Linked DNA regions of Homo sapiens: regions 1, 2, 4 and 5 are each linked to region 3. Evidence: fine-mapped expression QTL. A gene starts in region 3. Each other region holds a variant in brackets. All regions are shown on one strand. Distances are between the middles of the regions. Region 1 has its middle 31 kb from the start of VIPR2. Region 2 has its middle 140 kb from the start of VIPR2. Region 3 holds the start of VIPR2 (vasoactive intestinal peptide receptor 2). Region 4 overlaps VIPR2 (vasoactive intestinal peptide receptor 2). Region 5 has its middle 51 kb from the start of VIPR2.

Region 1 (5,105 bases), 31 kb before region 3:
TATGAAAATTCTAAAAATGTGAAAATAACTATAAAAAAGGTACTCTTTCAAGTTTGATATCTGTTGATCTCTTCAATGGTTTCCACTGCCAATAAGTTGGAGTAGGAGTAGGTTAGCACAGGTAGCAAATAGCAGTTTAAGTCTGAATCAGCTATGCTTTTCTTTTTTTTTTTTCAGATGGAGTTTTGCTCTTGTTGCCCAGGCTGGAGTGCAATGGCTCAATCTTGGCTCACTGCAACCTCCGCCTCCCAGGTTTAAGCAATTCTCCTGCCTCAGCCTCCTGAGTAGCTGGGATTACAGGCATGTGCCACCACACCAGGCTAATTTTCTATTTTTTTTTTTTAATAGAGACAGGGTTTCTCCATGTTGGCCAGGCTGGTCTCAAACTCCCGAACTCAGGTGATCTGCCTGCCTTGGCCTCCCAAAGTGCTGGAATTACAGGCGTGAGCCACCACGCCCAGCCCAGCTATGCTTTTAAAAACTCAAAAGCAAAGGAAACCTTTATGAAACTCCTATTTCAAAAATAAATTATTGCTCAATGTGTTCCTCTTGGAACCCCTTTTTAGAGGAGAGCAACTTGGACAACCCCTACGCACAGAATGCAACTTAGGAGGAGAAATGTCAGAAGATGTCGGTGAACCTGGCACTGAAAGGAGAGTCAGAATCTGTGTTACAACTCCAAGTAACCTCCTTCTGAATTAGATCTGCTGAAAAGCACTTGTGTTTCATTCAATTTTCCTAACATCAATCTGTCAGGAGATTTGTTCTCATTTCACTTCAGACCATATGGTTTAAATATAGATAGACTCCTACTTTTCTTCTACCTTTCCAGCTAAATATGACTCTATTTTTACTGAAGGGAAAATTCACTGGTGGTCAGAGCATGTCTGCTTTAAGGATGAGTTCATTGCCAAAGAGATGCCTTGGGTGGTCTCACCCTTCCAGCGACATCTTCATTGCCTGCAGCATGGAAGTGTGGAATTTTTACTGAGCTCTCTGATCTCACCAATGCTAGCTTGAGTCAGACTTTATGAGTTATTTCCTTTAAACAATTAGAGAACAAGAGGTCCTGGGTTAACAAAACAAAATAGTAAGACAACTTGCCTTATTGGATTTATGTTAATATCTTTATTTTCTGGTTCAGCCATACAGTTTTCACATCAGCAAAAGTGTTGTTTTTTTCAACTCAACAGAAATTTCCTGACTTCTCTGCTCTTACATGTTTTCAGAGTAAGCTCAAGGGCAACACAAAAATAAGTTTTAGCTTCGTATTTTTCATTATCAAATCTAAATTTTGAACTCAATTTCATCAAAGTGAGATGTAGAATATTTTGATATGGCAATTTCTTTAGCTACGAAACAAGACTTCATGATCTTTATTATGATTAAACTTTATAGCCTCATTAATTTTCCTTCTCTTCAGGTGAACACCCATTTGCTTAGCAATCCAATAATGAGTGCCTTAGGAAGTGTTTAGGGTTAGCCAGTCTTAAGGAAAAGCAACTGAAATTTTTACCCCAAATTGGCAGGAAATAAGTTACTTAAAATATTAAATATGCCTTTTGGGCCCATTTTTCCTGCAGTATAGATTTGTATTTTACAAACTTCATAAAATGATCTAGAGGTGAAGGCTGCTGTCACTAGCTGAAATGGGCTGACACATGATGACACAAAGCAGTGTGGTGTGACATGTGCCCCACTAGGTTACTTAAGTGTGTATGTCACTGAAAGCTGAAGGTCCAGCAGCCGGCCAAGTCCATGGCACCCAGCTGAGAAGCAGGTGTCCCTGAGAACCCCAACATCCTGGGCTGTGTGTGGGGACATAAAGCAAGGAAAACAGCCCCATTGCACACACACTGCAGGCAGAGACCCAGCAAATTAGCTTAAAAGCAGCTTGGAATTGGGAGGTAGGGTGACCTCTAGAGCTGTCCTGCA[A/G]CCATCCAGGAGTGCCCTGTGTGTGAGTCCCAGTAAACTCACCTACTCGTCAGGCTGGACTCATCCGAGCCATTCTTGTCATTCTTTGATCTCTCGGCTCATTCCCAGTTGGGGGGTGAGTTACAGTCCCAAGTTTTTTCTCCTAACAGACAGTTATCTTCACCCAGTTATATTCTCATTTCCCTTCAAATCCCTGCTACTTCTTACCCCCAAGGAAACATAAACAGTGTTTCATAGTCATATATGCTGAAAATATGTCTCCTCTCCAGTGGGCCACGTGAGACATTTAAGTATCAAAAAAATGTACCGAGACCCAAAAAACCTCAGTATTATTGAAATAATTTTTTGGTTAATTAAACAGAGACTAACGAAAACACACATTTATTCAACTTGCTATATGCCAGAAAAGCTAAAGTCCCTTCAGAAGTATTAACTTACTGATTCTGAAGCGTGGCAAGTCCTGGGTCTGGCAGAGCCCTCAGTGCGTTGATGCAGGCGGCAGACACGCAGGTGGAGGCATGAGCAGAGCTGAGATGTTCTGCTAAGAAATTGGAGACATTCAGCAGGGCGTGGAGGAGTTGGAGCTGGATGCAGGTGAGATTTGGAAGCTAAATGGATGACGTGCAGGGAGATGAAGGACACCAGGAATCCTGCTGTGTCAGAAGGAGAACCCACAGGAAATTCGGCAGCCCAGAAGGAGAACCCACAGGAAATTCAGCAGCCCAGGAGAACCCACAGGAAATCCGGCAGCCCAGAAGGAGAACCCACAGGAAATTCGGCAGCCCAGGAGAACCCACAGGAAATCTGGCAGCCCAGGAGAACCCATAGGAAATCCGGCAGCCCAGAAGGAGAACCCACAGGAAATTCAGCAGCCCAGGAGAACCCACAGGAAATCCGGCAGCCCAGAAGGAGAACCCACAGGAAATTCGGCAGCCCAGGAGAACCCACAGGAAATCTGGCAGCCCAGGAGAACCCATAGGAAATCCGGCAGCCCAGAAGGAGAACCCACAGGAAATTCAGCAGCCCAGGAGAACCCACAGGAAATTCGGCAGCCCAGAAGAACCCACAGGAGATTTGGCAGCCCAGAAGGAGAACCCACAGGAAATCCGGCAGCCCAGAAGGAGAACCCACAGGAAATTCGGCAGCCCAGGAGAACCCACAGGAAATCCGGCAGCCCAGGAGAACCCACAGGAAATTCGGCAGCCCAGAAGGAGAACCCACAGGCCTCGTTTTACTGCACTTCCCTTTATTGTGTTTCACAGGTGCTGCTTTTCTCACAAACTGAAGGTTTGTAGCAACCCTGAATTGAGTGAGGCTATAGGTGCCATTTTTCCAACAGCATGTGCTCACTTCATGTTTCTGTGTCACATTTTGATAATTACCATAATATTCCAAACTTTTTCATTATTACAAATGTTATGGTAATCTGTGACTGTTGATCTTTAATGTTACTATTGTAATGGTTTGGGGACCCATATAAGGTGGCCAACTTAATACATGTTGTAAGTTCCAATGGCCCCACCAACCAACCTTCCCCCCATCTCTCTCCCACTCCTTGGGCCTCCCTATTTCCTGAGACTCAAGAATATTTAAATTTGGCAAGTGCCTCTAAGTGCTCACATGAAAGAAAAAGCCACACCTCTCTCACCTTAAATCAAAAGCTAGAAATGGTTAAGCTTAGTGAGGAACCCATGTTGAAAGGCATGAAAGACCGAAATCGAGGCCTGTTGTGAAAAATGGTTAGCCAAGCTGAGAATGCAAAGGAAAAGTTCATGAAGGAAAGTAAAAGTGCTGCCCCAGTGAACAAATAAATGATGAGAAAGCAAAACAGCCTAATCCAGAGGTGACAGGCTGAACTCTCTTCAATTCTGTGAAATCCAAGAGAGGAGAGGAAGCTGCAGAAGAAAAGTTGGAAGCTCACAGGGGTTGGTTCATGAGGTATAAGGAAAGAAGCCATCTCCATAACATAAAGTGCAAGGTGAAGCTGCAGTAAGTTATCTAGAAGATCTAGCTAAGATCAGTGATGAAGGAGGCTACACTAGACAACAGATTTTCAGTGTAGGTGAAGCAGCCAGCTTTTGGAAGAAGATGCCACCTAAGACCTTCATAGCTAGAGAGGAGAAGCCAATGCCTGGCTTCAAAGCTTCGAAGGACAGGCTGAGTCTCTTGTGAGGGGCTAATGCCACTGGTGACTTGAAGTTGAAGTTAATGCTCATTTACTATTCCAAAAATACTAGGGCCTTTAAGAATTATACTAAATCTACTCTACCTGTGCTCTATAAACGGAACAACAAAGCCTGGATGACAACACATCTGTTTACAGCATGGTTTACTGAATATTTTAAGCCCACTGTTGAGACCTACTGCCCAAAAAATATTCCTTTCAAAATATTACTGCTCATCGACAATGCACCTGGTCACCCAAGAGCTCTGATGGAGAATGAATGTTGTTCTCATGCCGGCTGAAACAACAACCATTCTTCAGCCCATGGAGTCATCTAAACTTTTGAGTCTCATTTAAGAAATATATTTCATACATCCGTAACTGCCATAGATAGTAATTCCTCAGATAGATCTGGGCAAAGTAAATTGAAAACCTTTCAGAAAAAAATTCACCACTCTAGATGTCATTAAGAACATTTGGGATTCACGAGAGGGGGTCAAAATATCAACATTCACAGGAGTTTGGAAGAAGTTGATTCCAGCTCATGGATGACCATGAGGGGTTCAAGACTTTGGTGGAGGAAGGAACCAGAGATGTGGTGGAAAGAGCAAGAGAACCAGAGTTAGAAGTGGAGCCTGAAGATGGGACTGAACTGCTGCAATCTCATCATCAAACTTACATGGATAAAAAGATGCTTCTTATGAGTAAGTAAAGAAAATGACTTAAGATGGAATCTACTCCTGGTGAAAATGCTGTGAATATTGTTGAAATGACAACAGAAGATTTAGAATATTAAATAAACCTAGTTGATAAAGCAGCAGCAGAGTTTAGGAGGTTGATTCCAATTTTGAAAGAAGTTCTACTGGGGATAAAATGTTGTCAAACAGCATCATGATAGAGAAAGGTTTTGTGAAAGGAAGAGTCAGTCAATGCAGCCAACTTCATCATTGTTTTAAGAAATTGCCACAGCCATCCCAGCTTTCAGCAGCGCCCACTCTGATCAGTC
Region 2 (5,105 bases), 140 kb before region 3:
TCAGGTTAACTGGCCTGAAGTTCTCTTTTTTTTGTTGTGTCTCTGTCCGGTTTTGGTACAGAATGACGCTGGCTTCATAAAATGAGTTAGGGAGGAGTCCCTCCTTTTCAATTGTTTGGAATAGTTTCAGAAGAAATGGTACTAGCTCCTCTTTGTACCTCTGGTAGAATTCAGCTGTGAATCCATCTGGTCCTGGGCTTTTTTTTTTTTTTTTTGGTTGATAGTCTATTAATTACTGCCCCAATTTCAGAACTTGTTATTGGTCTATTCAGGGATTCAACTTTTTCCTGGTTTAGTCTTGGGAGGGTGTATGCATCCAGGAATTTATCCATTTTTTCTAGATGTTCTAGTTTATTTGCATAGAGGTGTTTATAGTAGCTAGTGGTCTATCTATTTTGTTAATTTTTTCAAAAAAACAGCTCCTGGATTCATATATTTTTTTGGAGAGTTTTTTGTGTTTCTATCTCCTTCAATTCTGCTCTGATCTTAGTTATTTCTTGTCTTCTGTTAGCATTTGGATTAGTTTGCTCTTGCCTCTCTAACTCTTTTAATTGTGATGTTAGGGTGTTGATTTGAGATCTTTCTAGCTTTCTGATGTAGCCATTTAGTGCTATAAATTTCCCTCTTAACACTGCTTTAGCTGTGTCCCAGAGAATCTGGTATGTTTTCTCTTTGTCCTCATTGGTTTCAAATAACTTCTTGATTTCTCCCTTAATTTCTTTATTTACCCAGGAGTCATTCAAGACCAAGCTGTTCAATTTCCATGAAATTGTGTGGTTTTGAGTAAGTTTCTTAATCCTGAGTTCTAGTTTGATTGCACTGTGGTTGGAGAGACTGTTTGTTATGCATTTGCTGAGGAGTGTTTTACTTCCAATTATGTGGTCGCTTTTAGAATAAGTGCCATGTGGCACTGAGAAGAATGTATATTCTGTTGATTTGGGGTGGAGAGTTCTATAGATGTCTATTAGGTCCACTTGATCCAGAGCTGAGTTCAAGCCCTGAATATCCTTGTTAATTTTCTGTCTCATTGATCTGTCTAATATTGACAGTGAGGTGTTAAAGTCTCCCGCTACTGTTGTGTGTGAGTCTAAGTCTGTTCGTAGGTTTCAAAGAGCTTGTTTTATGAATCTGGGTGCTCCTGTATTGGGTGCATGTATATTTAAAATAGCTCTTCTTGTTGCATTGATCCCTTTACCATTATGTAATGTGTTTCTTTGTCTTTTTCAATCTTTGTTGGTTTAAAGTCTGTTTTGTTAGAGACTAGGGCTGCAACTCCTGCTTTTTCTTTTTCTTTTTTTCTTTCTTGTTTTTTTTTTTTTTTTTTTTTTTTGCTTTCCATTTGCTTGGTACATTTTCCTCCATCCCTTTATTTTGAGCCTATGTGTGTCTTTGCATATGAGATGGGTCTCCTTAATACAGCCCACAAATGGGTCTTGACTCCTTATCCAATGTGCTAGTCTGTGCCTTTTAATTGGGGCATTTAGCCCATTTACATTTAAGGTTAGTATTGTTATGTGTGAATTTGATCCTATCATCATGTTGCTATCAGGTTATTTTGCTCACTAGTTGATGCAGTTTCTTCATAGTGTCATTGGTCTTTATATTTTGGTGTGTCTTTGCAGTGGCTGGTACCAGTTTTTCCTTTCCATATTTAGTGCTTCTTTCAGGAGCTCTTGCAAGGCAGGCCTGGTGGTAAGAAAATCCCTCAGCATTTGCTTGTCTGGAAAGGATTTTATTTCTCCTTTGCATATGAAACTTAGTTTGGCTGGATATGAAATTCTGGGTTAAAAATTATTTTCTTTAAGAATGTTGAACATTTGCCCCCAGTCTCTTCTGGCTTGTAGTTTTCTGCTGAGAGGTCTGCTGTTAGTCTGATGGGCTTCCCTTTGCAGGTGATCTGGCTTTTCTCTCTGGCTGCCTTTAACATTTTTTTCTCATTTCAACTTTGGAGAATCTGAAGATTATGTGTCTTGGGGTTGATCTTCTCATGGAATATCTTAGTGGTGTTCTCTGTATTTCCTCAATTTGCATGTTGGCCTGTCTTGCTAGGTTGGGAAAGTTCTCCGGATAATATCCTGAAATGTGTTTTCCAGCTCATTTCCATTCTCCCTGTCTCCTTCTGGTACTCCAATCAATTGTAGGTTCAGTCTTTTTATGAAGTCCCATATTGGGGTCTTTGTTCATTCCTTTTCATTCTTTTTTCTCTAATCTTGTCTGCATGTCTTATTTCAGTAGGGTGGTCTTCAAACTCTGACATCCTTTCTTCTGCTTGGTAGATTCGGCTATTGATATTTGTGTATGCTTCACGAAGTTCTCGTGCTGTGTTTTTCAGCTCTATCAGTTCATTTCTGTTCCTCTCTAAACTGGTTCTTCTAGTTAGAAGCTCCTCTAACCTTTTATCAAGTTTCTTAGTTTCTTTGAATTGGGTTAGAACATGCTCCTTTAGCTCAGTGGAGTTTTTTATTACCCATCTTCTGAAGCCTACTTCTGTCAATTCATCCATCTCATCCTCTGTCCAGTTCTTTGCCCTTGCTGGAGAGGCATTGCAATCATTTGGAGGAGAAGAGGTACTCTGGCCTTTTGGGTTTTCAGGTGTTTTTTTGTTGATTCTTTCTCATCTTCATGAGTTTGTCTAGTTCCGATATTTGAGGCTGCTGACCCTTGGATGGGCTTTTGTGGGGACATTTTGTTGTTGATGATGCTGTTGTTGCTTTCTGTTTGTTTTTCTTTCAATGGTCTGGTCCCCTTTCTGTAGGGCTGCTGTGGTTTGCTAGGGATTCACTTGAGGCCCTATTCATCTGGTTTGCTCCTGCACCTGAGCTGTCACTCAAGAAGACTGGAGAACAGCAAAGATGGGTGCTTGCTCCTTCTTCTA[A/G]GATCTCTGACCTCGAGGGGCACCAATCTGATGCCAGTAGGATTGCTTCTGTATAAGGTATCTGACAACCCCTGTTGGAGGGTCTCACCCAGTTGGGTGGTACAGGGAACAGAACCTGTTTAATGAAGCACTTCGATTGTCTCTTGGTGGAGAGGGTGTGCTTCACTGAGGGGAAATCCACTCATCTGGGCTGCCCGGATTCCTCAGAACTACAGAAAGAAAGGTTAAGTCTGCTGGTCCGCAGAGACTGCGGCCACCCCTCCCCTAGGGGCTCAGGCCCATGGAGATTTGGGTTCTGTCCCTGAGCCTCTGGTTGGAGTTATTGGAGTTCCTGCAGGGAAGCCCCACCCAGTGAGGAGGGATGTGTCAGGGTCAGGCCTGAAGAGGTGCTCTGGCCACAGTCTGCAACAGCCAGTGTGCTGGGCTGTGGAGGACATCTCTTGGGGACCAAGCCATCCAGCATCTCTGGCTCCAGCATGGGAAAAGCATGGCCTGGAACTATAGAGATGGATGCCACTCTTCCCCCACCTAGGGAGCTTAGCATGTTAGGCAGTTATGAGTCCCAGTGCTGGCTGCTGCCCCTCCCACAGGAGCTCAAATGGCTTAGGCAGTAGGTAGCCACAGCTGTGGTGCTGGTCACCTCTTCCCCTGGGAGCTCAGCAGACTTAGGCAGATTCCAGTTGAGAGGCTGTTGAGAGTCTGCGTGGCTCCTGGGTTGGGACCCTAGGCCCTGGTGGCGTGGGTTCACAAGTGGGATCTTCTGATTCATGGGTTGCACAATTCCATGGAAAAAGGACGTTTTCCCCAGTTGGGTAGCATGCTCACTCACTGTCTCCCTTGGCTGGCAGGTGGGGGCTCCCCTGTCCTGTGCAGCTCTCAGTTGGGCCGTTGCACCACACTGCTTTTCCTTCCTTGCTGTGGATCATGTCAGCCGCCTAGTCAGTTCTGATGAGAAGACCTGGATACCTTGGTTGCTGGTGAAGGATTCACATGCTAATTACGGTTCTTTATGATGGAAGCCTCTGATAGCTGCTGTTTCTAGTTGGTCTTTTTAGCCCTGCCCCTACCTTACTCAGATTCTAAGTACCTATAGGTACATGGGTCTGTTTGGGGACCTAATTCTATCTCCCAGTCTGTTTGTTCTTGAACAAATATCATGCTGTTTGAATCACTGTAACTTTATACTATGTTCTGATATTTATGGAGTCTTAATTGCCTTATTAAAAATTTTTTTGGGGGTCAGGTGCCTATAATCTTTGGAAGGCTGAGGCAGGAGGATAGAGGAGGATAGAGCTTGAGCCCAGGAAACCTACCTGGGCAACATGGTGAGACCTCATCTCTACAAAATATTTTAAAATTAGCTGAACATGGTGACACATGCTAGTGGTCCCAGCTACTCAGAAGTCTGAGGCTGGAGGATCACTTGAGCACAGGGGGTTGAGGCTATAGTGAGCCATGTTCACACAACTGCTCTCCAGCCTGAACAACAGAAAGAGACCCTGTAAAAAGGGGGAAAAATTGGCATTTTAAATTTAGTTATTCTTCCAGATGAGCTTAATTTTTTTAAAAAGAAACAATGTATTTTTGCATTAAAATGTATATGTTCTCTCAAGAGAATGAACATATATACATACTTCCCCAAGCAGATAAGTGGTGTCTCCATTTATTCAGATCCTATTTTGCCTTAATAGTTTTTTCATCTTCCTTATATAGATCTTGTACCTTTCTTGTTAAATTTGTTAAGTACTATTCTAAACCTTAGAACCTAGACTAATATTGAACTATATTATATATTTACATATTGTCTTAGTCAATTTTGTGCTGCTATCACAGAATATCACAGACTGGCAAATTTGTAAAGAGCAGAAATGTATTTTTTCACAGTTTAGGAGGCTGGGAAGTCCAACATCAAGGCACCAACAGATTCAGTTGTCTGGTGAGGGCTGCTCTCTGTTTCCAAGATGGCACCTTGTTGCTGTATCCCCTCTAGAGGGGAGGAACACTGTATCTTCACATTGCAGAAAACAGAAGGGCAAGCAAAACAGATTCCCTCCATGAAGCCCTTTTATAAGGCGGCCTAATTTCATTCAGGAAAGGTGGAGCCCTCATGACCTAATCACCTCTTAAAGACCCCACCTCTTAATATCTTTACTTTGGCCGTCAAGCATCAATACCTGAATTTTGGAGGGAACACATTCAAACCATAGTACAATGTATAAGAACTAAGTAT
Region 3 (5,105 bases):
GGCACCCAGCGCCACGAGCTTTCTTCACAAGCCAAGCAGCCCGCCTAAGGCCCAGGTCTCCCTCTCCTCGTCTCCCACTAGATACACATGGATGAAGCCAGATAGATAACAGGTAGAGGATAGATGACAGGCAGATGACAGATAGGCAGATGATAGATGATCGATAGATGACAGGCAGATGATGGATGACAGGCAGATCACAGATATGATAGATCACAGATAGATGACAAATAGGCAGATGATAGATGACAGGCAGATGACAGATAGGCAGATGATAGATGACTGATAGATGACAGGCAGATCACAGATATGATAGATCACAGATAGATGACAAATAGGCAGATGATAGATGACAGGCAGATGACAGATAGGCAGATGATAGATGACTGATAGATGACAGGCAGATCACAGATATGATAGATCACAGATAGATGACAAATAGGCAGATGATAGATGACTGATAGATGACAGGCAGATCACAGATATGATAGATCACAGATAGATGATAAATAGGCAGATGATAGATGACAGGCAGATGACAGATAGGCAGATGATAGACTGATAGATGACAGGCAGATGACAGATAGGCAGATGATAGATTGATAGATGACAGGCAGATGACAGATAGGCAGATGATAGGTGATTGATAGATGCCAGCCAGATGACAGATAGGCAGATGATAGGTGATTGATAGATGACAGCCAGGTAGATCACAGATATGCCGGATCACAGATGATGGATAGGCAGATGATAGATGACAGATAATAGATGATAGATTACAGATAGACGATCGATAGGAAGATAATAGATGATAGGTACATGACAGATCATAGATAAATGACAGAGAGGTAGATGATAGATGATAAATAGGTAGATGGTAGGTAATAGATAGGTAATAGATCGCAGAGAGATGATAGGTAGATGATAGCTGATTGATACATGATACAGAGATGATAGGTACATGATAGATGGATAGATCATAAATGACAGCAGATGATAGATGATAAATAGGTAGATGACAGGTTATAGATAGGTAAATTACAGATGAAAGATAGGCAAATGATAGATGATAGGTACATAATAGATGGATAGATCATAGATAATAGATGACAGGTAGGTGATAGAGGAAAGGTGGATGATAGATGATAGGCGCATGATGATAGATACCTGACAGATGGATAGATGAAAGGTAGATGATGGACAGGTAGATGATAGATGACAGATAATAGATGACAGATTACAGATAGATGATCGATAGGAAGATGATAGATGATAGGTACATGACAGATCGATAGATGATACGTAGATGATGGATAGGTAGATGATAGATAATGTGGATGATAAACATCAGATGATAGAAAAATCGATATCTGTGAATACGGGGGGTGGGGGATCAGAGAGAAGCAAATGATAAGCCCAATGAGGTAAATGTTAATGACCGAATCCACAAAAAGGATAAAAAGGAGTTATTTGTAATATTCTTATTCTTCTAATTTTTGTGTAAGTTTGAAATTATTTCCAAATAAAAAATTAAAACAACACGAACTTAACTTGTATCTCTCATTCCAGTGCTTTCCACTTGCTGGGGAACGCCGAGCTCTCCTGGGTTGGTCACGCGGGCGCCTTGGGAGGCCGCGCAGTCCCGCGTGGGGCGCGGCGGGGCGGCCCCAGTGGCACCGCGTGAGTCCCCGCCCAGCGTTCCCCACCCGCCGCCGCGTTTGCGGGGAGAGAATGACCCCCGTTTTGCAAACGCAGGACACAAAACCCGCCACCCAGCTGAGGCTGGGACCCACCTATACCCCCGTCTGCGTTTTTCTCCAGCTTTCTGTTCGACCTGATGTCCTCTTTGAGGCTGCGGGGATCCCCACCAAAAAGCACTCTGATTTTCTCCATTTTCAGATGCCCCAACCTAGCCCCACTGGCTACAAAGACGGCGCGCCCACCCCGGACGGGTCTCTGGCCGCTTTCTTGGGCTTCCGCAGTTGTTTAGAAAGGCAGGTACAGGCGGCCGCAAAGGCATCCGCCCCTTCCGAGCGCACACCTGGCCCGGTCCTCCTCTCCCGGCCCCGCGCCGGCCGCTCTCCCCCAGTTCTCTCTACTCGGAGCCGGGCGCGCACTGAGCACCCCGCTTCCCAGCCCCTCCGCCCACAGATCGGGGAGGCGCGGCCGGGAGGGGGGCGTGGGCCAGGGAAGAGGGGAGGAGAACGGAGAGAGAGGCTGGGGGGGTCGAGGAGACCAGAGGGAGCGCGCGCGGCGGGGACAGAGAGCCCAGGGGCGAGGAGAGGGCGCGGGGCGCAGCGGAAGGGGAAGTGGGGGGCGGTGAGGAGGGGCGCGGAGCGGGGGTTCTCGGGGGAGGAGGGAGACGAGGATTGGGGCAGCGCGGGGCGGGGACAGGGGCGGGGGGCGGAGCGGCGGGGCGCGTGGGGGACGGGCGTGCATTGAGCGCGCTCCAGCTGCCGGGACGGAGGGGGCGGCCCCCGCGCTCGGGCGCTCGGCTACAGCTGCGGGGCCCGAGGTCTCCGCGCACTCGCTCCCGGCCCATGCTGGAGGCGGCGGAACCGCGGGGACCTAGGACGGAGGCGGCGGGCGCTGGGCGGCCCCCGGCACGCTGAGCTCGGGATGCGGACGCTGCTGCCTCCCGCGCTGCTGACCTGCTGGCTGCTCGCCCCCGTGAGTGCGCCCGCGACCCCCGCCCCACGGCGCCTCGGACCCGGTTCTCCCCTTCCGAGAAGAGCGCTCCTCCCGCCGGTCTTCGCCTTCCTCCCGGGTGCTGGAGCGCGGGCGGGGTCCGGGAGAGGGAGCGGGGTCGCCCGGGGTCCGGAGCTTCCTCCCGGAGAGCGTGAAGCGCTGAGCTCCGGTCCCGCCGGGTTGCGGGACTCGGGTTGGGAGGCTGCCTGCGCCCTTCCCCGCGCCCCACCGTCCGGGGTTTGCTGGAAACGGGATCGTTTCTTCCTGGACGCGTCAACGATGAGCTCGTTCGGGGCCGTCCCGGGAGCTGGGAGCTGCGGGCGCCTGCGCGGGCTGCGCGTTTCACGGGGAGATCGGGGTTGGCGTTGGCCGCAGATGCCTCTCGGTCCCTCCCTGTACTTACTGGTTAGTTTTAGTGTCGGGGGGACGTGGCGTCGGTTAAATAAAGTTTCCTTTTGGAAATAGTTGCTTTTTCCCAAGGGCACTGGAGGAACTAACTGCTCATAAGTTTGTTGATTAAGTGCCTTCGCACATGGAGTTCTGAATTATTCCCTCTGTGAACCTTAAAAAAAAAGGAAAGAAAAAAGAAAGAAAAAAACCCGAGCCTTGTTTCTTGCTTTCCTCTTGGAGACTGAAGCGGGTTTGCGGTGCGCGCGGTTTTCGTGCGCGTCGCAGCCGAGGCAGGTCTGGATCGATCCGCGGCCCCTCCGCAGCTGGGAGGCTGCGCTGCTGACCCGACAGTGTCATTGATTAACCGGCGACGCCCGGTCTGCAGCGGGGCTCGAGCCACACTCCCTGGCCTTGCGCGGAGGCGCAGCTCGGCTTTCCTCCCTCGAGGGTGGGCGCTTTGCGGAGCGGGTCCTTGGAAAGTAACGGGTTTTATCACGGTTAATGCTGCTTTCATTGCTAAAATGTCCTAAAAGAAGTCATTGCTGTGCATATTCCAGGAACGTCAGGTATTATTAATGTCTTTTACACTTTAACAAAGTTTTTCTTTTTACATCAATATAATTTCCTTAATTCTGAAATTTAAGCCACTTACTTGTCCTGCATGAAAACAGAGGACTTGGAGCCCAAAGTCAGTGCCTGGTGCTGGTTCAGTCACGAGCAAGAAGCAAGCTCGGGGCTCTTTTAAATGGGGCTGAAGGTGGCAGAAGTTCCAGCATTGTTTTCCCCTTAATTCTGTTAGGATATTGTGTTCCTGGTTGGAACTCTCATTGACCATTTCAATAGTAAGATAACTAAACATAGATGGCCATAGTACGCCCAACAGTATGATTCTCTTTAGTTACTACTTTAGTACAAGTAGAATTTTGGTCGGTGGTGGGGGAGGGGGAAGATCAAGACCAAAAGGATGGGTGGGGGGAGCCCTCCTTAAGCCCCCAAGGGCCGCTTGGCAGGCCTGTGCTGACTTCGCGGAGGGCGTGAAGAACAAGGTAGAAACGGTGCCTTCTGAGAGGAAGCATTGTGTAGTTCTGCCTTCTTCTCACATTAGTAGACTGTTAATTACTATCTTTGTGGCACCTTTCGCTCCCCTGATGGATCCTGACTGGAAATCGCCCCCTCTTCTCTGTGGGGCCACAATGGTGTGATTCCCCCACCTCTGCCTCCCTCCTCATCTTGCTGATTTCTTTGAATATCTCTTCCACCCCAAATTCTAGTCAAAACGATTGCAGTTTTATCTGTAGTTAGAGGGTTAAGCTTTGAACATGTACCAACACCTTTAAAAATAAAGCCCTTCTATCACGGCTCTTTCCCGGGTGGAGGCCGTCCTCGGAGGAAGCGGCACAGTCCACAGGCATCCGCTTAAACCAAACCAAAGGGTGTGAAACGGAGGAGCCGGGTATGGAGAGATGAATGGAGTAAAGAGCTCTGTTGCCTCCAAATTAGTACCGATGTATTCTGTTAGTAAGTTCATTTTCCTGCTCAGAAAAAAAATTCTATTAGATTTTGTGTTTGTTTTATAATACCTTTACAAAGTAAATAGTGAAGTTTTTAAAAAATGCCAGAAAAATCAAGGTGATTGGTTTTAAATGCATTTTGGTTTGGAAGCAGTTTAAAGCTGTGAGGTTTGGGGTTGTTTTTGTAGAATTTTTGCTTGCTTTTCTTCTTCTTGTGGAATTTTTAGTTATTAATATTTCTTTTAACCGTGAACAGGTGAACAGCATTCACCCAGAATGCCGATTTCATCTGGAAATACAGGAGGAAGAAACAAAATGTGCAGAGCTTCTGAGGTCTCAAACAGAAAAACACAAAGGTAAGGCAGAGGCTTGGTGAGTAAGAACTCCCGTGACATTCTCACCCGGGAATGCGCCTCACTCAGCTGTGGTTCAGGGTCACCACCTGCATCTTAAAAAAAAAAAAAGAAAAAGAAAGGCCACTTCCCATTGTTTGTTAATGAACTACTGGTAAAACTC
Region 4 (5,105 bases), 29 kb after region 3:
CACAGGGGCTTCAGCAGCCCCCCAGCAGGAAGAGAGTGGCTCATCCTTCAGCCCGTTATTTGCTGTGCAAGGGGAGTATTCGATGACTGGGACGCCCCCGGCCTCTCTGAGCTCCCCGTGAGAACCAGCTGGGACTTCCTGCTCTGCCCAGATTCTGGAGGAAGCTTTGTTGTTGTCACTTGAGACATAAGTCAAGCTTTCTTGAGTGGAGGATGCGATTGGAAATATTTGCTTCTAAATGCGTTGGAGGCAAGCTGTCATCCGAGCCGATGGCCAGTCTCAGGAGGCTTTGCTTCTCAGCTTTCCTTTTCCCACTCGCTGGTTCCTAGAGCTGTTCCCCAGCCCTGTCTGGATGAAGCAGCTTCAGCCCTCATGCCCCTCCTCCAAGTCCTGCTGACACTTGGTCACTGATGACAGCAGCAGGGTGGCTTCCCATGACTCGGGCCTCCTGGGCCACCCACCCTCAGCTGCCACTCTCTGTGGAGTTGCATGTGGGGTAGGGGCAGGTGACTCTGAAGATGGAAGGAGGGTGTGGGGGAACCATGGGAAGATCTAGGGCACCACCTCCCAGAGCTGCCCATTGTCCAAAGAGAGCATGAGCTGCGTGGCAAGCATGGTGCAGGTGACAACTGGAGTTGCACCCATCTGTGTCCATGACTCAGGTCAGCAGGTGCAGCCCCACCTCTGAGATGACGTCCTGCATTGCCTTTGTGTGGTGCGGCACTATGTTTCATGTGCTCACTGTTATCCTGTCTGTTCACAGGCCATACAAAGGGATTCATCCTCATTCACGCCGGAGGTTTAAAGAGGATCCTGGACCCACATACCTACCCATTGGCTCCATGACCAGTGCTTTTATAATTACAAAATCATTGAGAAATTAAGTCACAGGAAGCCTCGTGTGTGGTATACACTGGTGATAAAGCAAGTCCCATGCAGTCTGAGATGGCAAGGGACCTTCTAGGGAAAGGGCAGTGACCCAGAAGCCCGACTGCTCGGCTGGCTCCCGCACTCCGTCCTGTGGTCAGAGTGTGTTTCCTCCCCTCTGTGAACCTGGTCTCCTCCCCAGTGTGAGGACAGGGGCTCTCGCCTTCTTCAGGGAGTTGCTGGGAGGACAAAATGGAGTATATGTAAAAGTCATTTCCTAGATAAGGGGGAGCATGTCGTAAGAGTCTCTTGAAATTTAATTGATGTTTATGTCATTGACATTGAAATAATGAGAAAATAAATCCAAATCCAGAGCTCAAAGTAACACCTATAACGTCATCTGTAAGAGCCAGGACTTCCTAGGGAGTCTCTGGACAGAAGGCAGCGTCTTTTATACGGTAGGATTGCAGGTTCCTGTAGGTTCCTCCCCACTCTGTGCGCACTCCCCTTTGGCTGGAAGGTGTCACATAATTGAGTTACTGCTGTGTTCCTCAGAATTCCACCTGGAGGAATTCCCAGCATACCGGTAAGAACTTGTTCAAGCAGCAGCCTTTCCCAAACCCTGTGTATTCCGTTGAAAATGCTGTGAAGCCTCAGAAATGTCGGAAGGCTGCACCATCACAGGGTCCGTTTTTCTGAACGACTTAGTCTACAGTGTCTTTTTCAGGAGACTAAGCTGATTTTCAAGCAAAAATTAGGAAGCCACCACTGCCAGTCTACATTGAAAAGTCACTCATTGCCTGGAAGCTTCCAGCCCCCTGACCAGCCCCTGTGACTGACCACCGGTCACTGCCCACTCTGCCCACTTGCTTTCCCAAATGCACTGACCATGCGGGCACTGACCATGCCGGTGCCAACCCACTGCAGTGCCCTCTGGAGGGCCCATGTGACTCTGCTCTGCCAGCTGTTTGCTTCCCAGGAAGATTTGCTCCTGGTTATGTGTGGCTATGGCACAAATCTCCTGAAACTT[G/A]GCTTCAAAATTAGTAGTTGGCTCCTCCCAAGGCTCTGAGGTTGGCCCAAAAGGTTCTGCCCACGTCACCCAAGCTGTTCCTTTCCTACATTCAGCAGGTGCCTAAGCCTTCTCCCTGCAGCCTTTCCGACCAGGGCTCCCACCAACTGCTCCAGCCCTTCCGTGATGACCACCTTCCAGAAGGAAGAGCCTGTCAGTCCGAGGGGTCAGCACAGGTCACGGGGCCACATAGCAGGGTGGGGACAAGACCCCATGTCCAATGGGTGGAGCTCACAGCAGCCCTGGGAGACCTTGCTGTTCACAAACAAATCGATGCCTCACACCTGCTGCCTGACTACTTAGCTAAACGCAGCCTAAGCTGGTATATGAAAGGAAGCACGTGGCCCCAGGAAGCTGACTTGAGTGCTTAGGAAAGACTAGAAGCAGCAACGGAATCGGAGGTGAGAAGGGCAGCTAGAGGGCGTGGGGCAGCTCGGACACCAGCTTTGCCAGCCTGAGTTCCTCCATTCCCAGCACCCTGACCTTGGAGGCTGCAGGCAGCACGTCAGGGGCGTGATCTGAAAAGGCCAAGGGACGACCCAGCCAGCAAGCCTGAGCTCAGGGGCTTTGGTGACACATTCTAAGCACTAGTGGTGACACACCTTGCTGTGTTCTAATTAAGGTGAGACGTCCAAAGCAGACAGATTGAAGTCCTGTTTCAGCCAGGCTTGCCTGCCAAGCCCTGACCATGACTTTGGGTGAGAGGCTGCTGAGATCAGAGGAGGCTCCTTCTCTACCCCTCTGCCAAGTTTTGAAAGAGGAAGATTGGGGTGATAAGTGAAACAACTTTATCATTTATATTGATTCAAAGGTATTTTGGATTATTTACATGGGACATTTTAGCCGAAGAACAATGACCCAGAGAAGCGGCTCCTCTGAGCTTCTGCCTCGGTGTGCGAGCCAAAGGGTTTCATTGCTCTTTTCTCTCTCTTTTTGCTTCTTGATTTGTGAGACAGGTTTGCTGGGTTTATGTTGCATTTGTCTAACTCTGACCCTAGACAGTGCTGTCGAGTAGAATTTCCCATGGTAGTGGAAATGCTGGTGTGATGGCTACCAGCCAAGTTCCACTGCGGAGCATTCAAATGCGGCGGCTGCAACTGAGGAACCAAACCTTTAACTGCATCTCCTTTTAATTAGCTTTCATTTAAATGGCCATGTGAGGCTAGTGGTTGCCATATAGAAAGTACAGTTCTAGGGTTTTTTCTCTACTTTTTACCAATTTATACCTCTTAGTTCTTCTTTCATCTGCTGTTTTAGCTGCAACTTATGACACATTGTTGAATAATAATGAATTGCAGGTACCCAACCTGGCTCCTCAGTTGTACAATTCTGTTTAAACATGTCTAATACTTGCTCTTTCTCTTTTTCTTCCCTCCCCGCTCCCTCCCTCCCTCCCTTCTTCCTTCCTTTCTCTCTCCCTCTCTCTCTTTCTATTCTTTCTTTCCTCTTTTTTTTCTTTGAGACAGGGCCTCACTCAGTCACCCGGGCTTGACTCAAGCTCCTGGGCTCAAGCAATCCTCCTACCTCAGCCTCCTGGGTGGCTGGGACTGCAGGTACTTACCACAGTGCCTGGCTTAATGCTTGCTATTTTTAACAAATATTCTCTGTGATGTTAAGGGAGTCTCATTATTTTACTATTTTATTTAGGGTTTTAAAAAATTAGAAATGGCCACTGAATTTTACCAAGTAACTTTTCAGAGTCTATTGATACATTTTCCACTTTTCAGAGCGACCTTTGATTTTATGATCACCATCTGGAAAACCTAGGTTGCCACCAGAGCTTAACAAGTCCCATTTCCCTGACTGCCTTATCCGAGCACTTTTGTTTGTTTCTCACTCCATCTGCAAATCCTTTGTTTCATGAAATCTCAGCTGCCCACTGCTTTCCAAACAGACAGGCGTCTCCAAGTGGCTGTGCTTCTCTCGGGGGTGGCCCTGCCTGCCTCCCCTTCTCCTCCCATGCCGTCCTGTGCCTCGGCGCACACTCCTACAGAAGGACTTGCTGCCTCTCCCAAATTCGCTGCCTCTCCCAAAGGGTTCACTGTGCCAAATTTGAATCACTTATGTCCAACACTGAACTGATGACCTATTCATGCACTATTTTGCTTTGGCCTGCACAATGTTCCTTAAAAATGTAAACATTTAAAAATGGGTATCTTAATATAATGATACACTTTAAATGCTAGTTTTCAACAGAGTGCATTTATAAAATTGTAAAAGGCAAATGATACTACAAGGCTGTATGAAGATAATAGTCTCCGGCCCCTCGTCATCCCCAGTTCTCAGCCCTATGGCAGCATCTCTTTCATCTCTTCTCTGGTATTTATTTTATTTCTAAACAGCATACTTATGCTCCTGTTTCTTTTCTTTCTTCCTCCCAATTTACATCCCAGTGTCCATTAGATTTCTAACAAGAATAAAGATCTATCTCTCCTGTGCCATTCCCACCACCCAAGTATAATTTATCATCCTGCCAGCCTCCTGATAGACTCACTTCACATTGCTGGTGTACATCATTGCCATCACAGTTGAGCCACATAATATCCAGCATTTCCTTTCTTCATAACTTTATGCTTTTCCTCGTTTTTCTGTTGCTGGGTTTTTCACCTACCTCTCAATAATTAGGCATCAAACCTCAGGCCAGAACACTCTCAAGACACTGCACTGAGGTGGTCTCAGGGTTCCATTTTTTCTCTTGTAGCAGGACGAGCTGCAGACAAAACCCCTCAGACACCGAGATGGTGAAGGGAGTGGCTTTAATCAGCTGGAAGCATTGGCAGACTAGCGTCTTAAAATCCGAGCTTGTCAGGTGCACAATTTTTGTCCCTTTTAAGGGCTCACAACGCTAAGGGTTTCACATGAAAGGGTCATGATTGATTGAGCAAGCCAGGGGGTATGTGACAGGGGCTGCATGCACGGGTGGTCAGAGTGAAACAGAACAGACCGGGAAGTTTCACAGTGTCTTTCTATACAATGTCTGCAATCTATAGATAACATCAGTTGCTAGGTCAGGGGTCAAATTTTAACTACCAGGCTTAGGTCAGGCAGGTCCAGGCCTGGTGTCGGGTCTGGTTCCTAGGCGCTGGGCTACCTGCCTTTAGTTTCGCTTCTGTTTCCTTTTCTGAGTATAAAACAATCTAAAACAATGTGAGAGGGTCTGTCTCTCTTC
Region 5 (5,105 bases), 51 kb before region 3:
CCATCCTGAACTTCACCAGGGACAGATTCATTAGCACTTGGGTCTAAATGACAAATAATCAGTGGTTAAAGTCTGTTGACATTTTAGGGGGATCAAAAGTGGTGAAGGAGCTGCCTTCCGGAGGCCTCCAGGCCAGCGGGCCCTCAGCTCTCTCGGTCTCGCTGGGGCCTGCCTCCTTCTCTGGCATAGAAACAGCAGGAGCTCAAAATATTTGAAAAAGGAAGGAAAAGAGGAATAAATAAAGGAAGGAAGGTAAGAAGTAGAGAAGAGAGGTAAGAAGGAGACTGGAACCTTCTGAAATCCCCCCTTGTTGCTGACATTGAGGGGCCCCTCTCCGAGCCACACACACCTTGCAGGTTTGTATTTGTGCCCAATGGACTAGACCCAGTGGCTGAGCCGGGAGGCTGAGGCTGTCTTCCTTCTGTCACACGTGATAACGTGAAAGTGCTGTGCAAATACAGGATGTAAGAACAAGAGAAATTTAGCATTCTCATTCTGCAGTGATATGACTGATAAGTGATATGACTTGCCTTAAAACACAAACTCGAGCTCAGGGCACCCAAAGCCTCTCACTCATCTATCCGTTCACGTATCCCTGGAGCTTCTCCTGCAGGCCAGTGCGAGGAGGCCGTGACCAAAACACGGCTCCTGTCTTCAGGGAGCCTGTGACTTCCCTGGGGAACGAGGTAAACAGGTCATGAAGACGCATAGTAGCTGCTGAGGGAGCTAAATAAAAGCACGTGGGAGGAGCCTCTAACTGGGGAGTTTTTCCTGGGAGGAGTCTGGTGAGCTGAGCCCTAAAGGACCAGAGGGAGGAACCTCTGACTGGGGAGCTTTTCCTGGGAGGAGTCGGGTGAGCTGAGCCCTAAAGGACCAGAGGAAGTCAGCCACGCTAAGGAGCGGGGAAGGCCTGGGGGAGGCTGTTTCTAAGCAGGGAGCAGAATGCACGAAGCCCCCAAGGCCCATGAACTCTGTGGCAAGCCCGGGTGGGCACGACTGGGCTGGCTGCAGTCTCCCTCAGTTCCACCACCCTGTCTGCAAGGAGCAAAGAAACCCCAAAGTACTTTGTTGTCTTAGTAAACACAACAGGTGACTCAGGGTATTACGTCTCTGATTATGATAATTTGTAAAAGTAATAGAAGCACGTTTGAGAAAATGTTGAAAATCAAAGGGGAAAAATATGTACCTTTAATCTTATCACTGAGCATAGTGAACATAGCAATTTAGATATATTTCCTTGTATCCTCTTCTATATACAAAAAGAGTTAATCGTAGTTTATGTACAATTTCATAATTAGATTTTTCACTAACCTTTATAATCACTGGTGTATTTCATACGCGAGGGCCAGCACCATGGCATGCAAACTGGGGCTCAGCCTCCATCTTCCCACATGCAGCGCCGTGAGGGACCCCTGGGATTTGACGTGGAGGCAGGGGTGCCCTTCAGTCTTGCAAACTCACTGAGCACGTGCCAGGCCTGAGCCAGGCGGTGGCAAGAGAGACAGGTGATGCCACAGAGGCACTGACATTCCAGCATGGTGACAGACAAATCAGGTTTTAAAAAGTGACAGAAACTAAGCAAGATGATTACAACATGCAATTTGTGTTGTAATGAAACTATCACAGGATTTTATCAAATGAGATGATAAAGGTTTTATAAATTTGAAAGCCAAATAGAAAATTAATATGATGATGATTTTTATTAGTGACATAGTTCATTTCTAAGATAATTGATAATATGTTTAGACTAAAATTGTCATAAGAAATATTTAATATTAATGGAAACTTATGTTTATTACAGAAGTGGTAAGAAGGAGCAGGCCGGGTGACCTTTCCTGCTGATTTATTACCTTATAAAAGATTCCAGGAAGTATTTTGAAAACACCATTTTCTGGTCTCTTTAAAGCACATATGCTGGGAAAGTGGCCAAGATGCAAACTCTTAAGCTCTTGGAGGATTTCAAATGTATCCCCTCGCTAGGAGGTAGAAAATGGCACATTCTGCCTTTGATCCCCAAAGAGGAGACAAAGTTGTTTTAGAAAAATTGCTTCTCTGGAATTTAACCAGAGTAAAGTGCCCTTGTCAAGGCTGGTTCAGCAAAACGATGGAGCAGGCCACGTTTGTACTCACACAGATGAGCCCTCTTCTTGTGGCTGTTTGTCGCGCTATTTTCTCACTTTCTG[A/G]TAAGATTTTCTCAGCTCAGCTGCTTCTGGTTTCAACACATGGTCATTTCCTGTTTATTTCTTTTAATTGAAACTTCAGTTTTTTACATACTCTCATCATTGTTCATGCAAAGCCTGCTTTTAAAAATTAATTTAAACAATTCAACAACTACCTACTAAAGTTACCCCAAATGAAAAGTAGGGCATTGGAAACGAACCTACATCTGCCTGAATGCCCCCATCCCTCCCTCTCCCCAGATGGCTGATGTCTGTGTCTGGGCTTCCTGCACATATGTGTCTACCTTGGAAGTATGTCCCTAAAAATCATGTGGCTTCAGTTTTAGTTGGTTGTTTTTTTTTTTTTTAATTTTGGGATTTTCACTTGCCAGGCAAAATTAAATTGTTAAAAAATTTTTTCTTTTTCTTTTTCTTTTTTTTTTTTTTTGAGACAGAGTCTTGCTCTGTCGCCCAGGCTGGAGTGCAGTGGCGCCATCTCAGCTCACTGTAACCTCTGCCTCCCGGGTTCATACAATTCTCCTACCTCAGCCTCCCGAGTAGCTGGGACTACAGGTACCAGCCACCACACCCGCCTAATTTTTTGTATTTTTAGTAGAGACAGGGTTTCACTGTGTTAGCCAGAATGGTCTCTATCTCCTGACCTCGTGATCCACCCACCTTAGCCTCCCAAAATGCTGGGATTACAGGTGTGAGCCACCGCACCCGGTCTGATTGTTAAAATTTATGCATCTGATTGCATGTCGCTATATTCTTCACTTGGAGCACTGTAAAATAACGTATGGTTGGAATGTGCAACAGTTTATCCATTTTCCTGTTAGAAGTGATTTGAATTGTTTCCAGATTTTTGCTTTCCTGTGAATGAAACATTTTTGCTGATGCCTTTGGTGCTCACAGGGAATATGAATGCCGCAGCTCCCAGCATAGGGACAAGCTGCTGTCCACAGCAGCAGCTCCAGCTTTATTCCCACCAGGAATGTGCATGGGGTCCAGGCAATCTGCATCTGCCCCTTTGCTTGGTGCCATCAGATGTCACCACTTTTTCCCACTTAAATGACAGTAAAATGTTATCTCTGTGATTTGGACTTGCATTTTCCTGATCACTAAGGATATTCGGCCTCTGCATATATTTGTTGGTTATATGTTCCATTTTTTTGAACTGTGTGCTGCCTTTTGGACACTTGTAATTGAATTATCAGTCCTTTTCTTATTGATTTATAATAGTTCTTTGAATTATAGACACTAAGCCTTTGTGCATTTTGTGCGGAACATATCTGTTTTTATTTTGTAATGTGTTTCCAATTTCTTTAAGGTAATTTGATTTTCTGTTATTGATAACTCTTGTTGGGCTTATTTAAGAAATCTTTGACTACTTCAAAGTTTGGAAGATTTTCACCTGTATTTCCTGTTTTCATTCTTCCTAATGAAATGGAGCAGTGTCAACACATGCACAATTTCTGCTGCATTCTCAAGTTGCACCGAGCAGCAGTTTGGAATTGGTGTGCTGGCTTTACTGAGGCCATATGCTTTTAAAGCTTTTTACCTAACATGGAATGAAAAATCTGGATCCTTAATTGTGTGATTTAAGGTATCAGCGTAAGTGGAAAACATATCGTAGAGAGCTCCTCCCGACCTCTTTCTGTTTACTTGGTGAAAGTGCCCACTTCCTTAGAATGGGTGCTCCCAAAATGTCCAGGGCCTTCTGGGCTCCTGGCCTTCTGGGCTCCTACAGGATGTCTTGGGAACAGTTGACACAGACTCATTCCTCTTCCGTGAGAAACCTTTTCTTGGAGTGACTAAAACAGGGTAGGACTTGGGATCATCCTGCTCTCACCGCTCTTGCTCCAAAATCAGCAAAATTCCTTCTTGCTGTGAAGAGCTTTTCAAAATATCAGATATGAGGCATTATTTTGATTCATCCTAAAAGCAAAATTACTCTGGAGTAGATGGATGCCCTAACTTTGATAATAAGTACATTGCAACTGCAAAAGGAAAATAAAATCTCAGATCCCAAACTCACTACGCCAAAAGGGAAAGTTGAGCTTGGAAACTGAGCCACAAACAACTCCCTTTCCTTCTGTTAAACAGGGACCTCCCCAGGTGGCCTCTCTCACCCTGACAGTGTAAATTAACACCTTATCTTTGTGAGTGCAGGACAATAAATTGTCCCACCACCCACCCTGAGATGAATGCCTGTTCGACTTCTTCCTCCACTCTGTGTGTACTTCATCTCGTGCAAAGTGCAGATTCACTGAGTGAGAGACAGCCACATACTCCGCTGTTCCTCTCCCCTCCTTTCACCTGCAGCTTGTGGATTCACTGAGCACTAATCAAAGCCTCACAAGAATGCAACTTCTTGTCTGATTTTTTTCTACAGAAAAAAATCTTTTTTTCCTTTCCTCCTTCCCCTCCTGCCTGCTTTTCTCCTTTAGGTATTGAGGCCCTCAAAACCCTCTTTGGAAAAAGTATGGGCCACAGGTCCTACTGCAGTCTGTCTCTTTCTCCTGAGTACATCCTCAACCTCGGCAAAATAAACCTCTAAGCTGATTGAGACCCGTATCAGGCACTCTTTGGTTTACACAACATGCAGGCAACTTGCAACATGATTGGAAAGAAATAATGTTAGTGTCCGTTATGCAAAGCCTTCCATTCTAAAAACAACACACACATTGCTTTAGTCATTTCAAGCAGATAAAAAGAAAGGAGTCCAATTTACTGACTAAAAAAATGAAAGCAGATGGATTGCACCTGGGTAAAGTATTCCTTGACTAACAAACCAGGAAATTCCAGGCTGTGTTAACATCCACAAGAGGTAAGCGAGAGTTCAGACCCAGCCTGCTGCCCAGATCCCAGGAGACACTGTCTTCTTTCGAATGTTTTCACATTTTTTGAAGTTTAACACAAATAAGAAAATACCCAAAGTGTAAA

The links. PIP is the estimated chance that this variant, and not a neighbour inherited with it, causes the effect.
Region 1: its variant is fine-mapped to the expression of VIPR2 in whole blood (TOPMed, PIP 0.92).
Region 2: its variant is fine-mapped to the expression of VIPR2 in whole blood (INTERVAL, PIP 0.97).
Region 4: its variant is fine-mapped to the expression of VIPR2 in whole blood (TOPMed, PIP above 0.99). The same link has a PIP of 0.9 or more in pancreas.
Region 5: its variant is fine-mapped to the expression of VIPR2 in whole blood (TOPMed, PIP above 0.99).

What each region holds. Positions count from the first base shown.
Region 1 is chr7:159,173,339-159,178,443 of GRCh38, reverse strand. No RefSeq gene overlaps it. Among named protein-coding and RNA genes, the nearest start is that of VIPR2, 31 kb to the right of the region's middle. The variant A/G (reference allele first, on the strand shown) is at 1,936.
Region 2 is chr7:159,283,075-159,288,179 of GRCh38, reverse strand. No RefSeq gene overlaps it. Among named protein-coding and RNA genes, the nearest start is that of VIPR2, 140 kb to the right of the region's middle. The variant A/G (reference allele first, on the strand shown) is at 2,876.
Region 3 is chr7:159,142,286-159,147,390 of GRCh38, reverse strand. VIPR2 (vasoactive intestinal peptide receptor 2) reads left to right here and starts at 2,524. Exons shown (of 13, transcript NM_003382.5): 1 at 2,524-2,670; 2 at 4,846-4,945. The coding sequence starts at 2,620. RefSeq lists an enhancer at 1-726.
Region 4 is chr7:159,113,065-159,118,169 of GRCh38, reverse strand. All of the region lies in intron 2 of VIPR2 (vasoactive intestinal peptide receptor 2), which reads left to right. Among named protein-coding and RNA genes, the nearest start is that of VIPR2, 29 kb to the left of the region's middle. RefSeq lists an enhancer at 4,747-5,105. The variant G/A (reference allele first, on the strand shown) is at 1,898.
Region 5 is chr7:159,193,092-159,198,196 of GRCh38, reverse strand. No RefSeq gene overlaps it. Among named protein-coding and RNA genes, the nearest start is that of VIPR2, 51 kb to the right of the region's middle. RefSeq lists a silencer at 743-812 and an enhancer at 923-1,032. The variant A/G (reference allele first, on the strand shown) is at 2,184.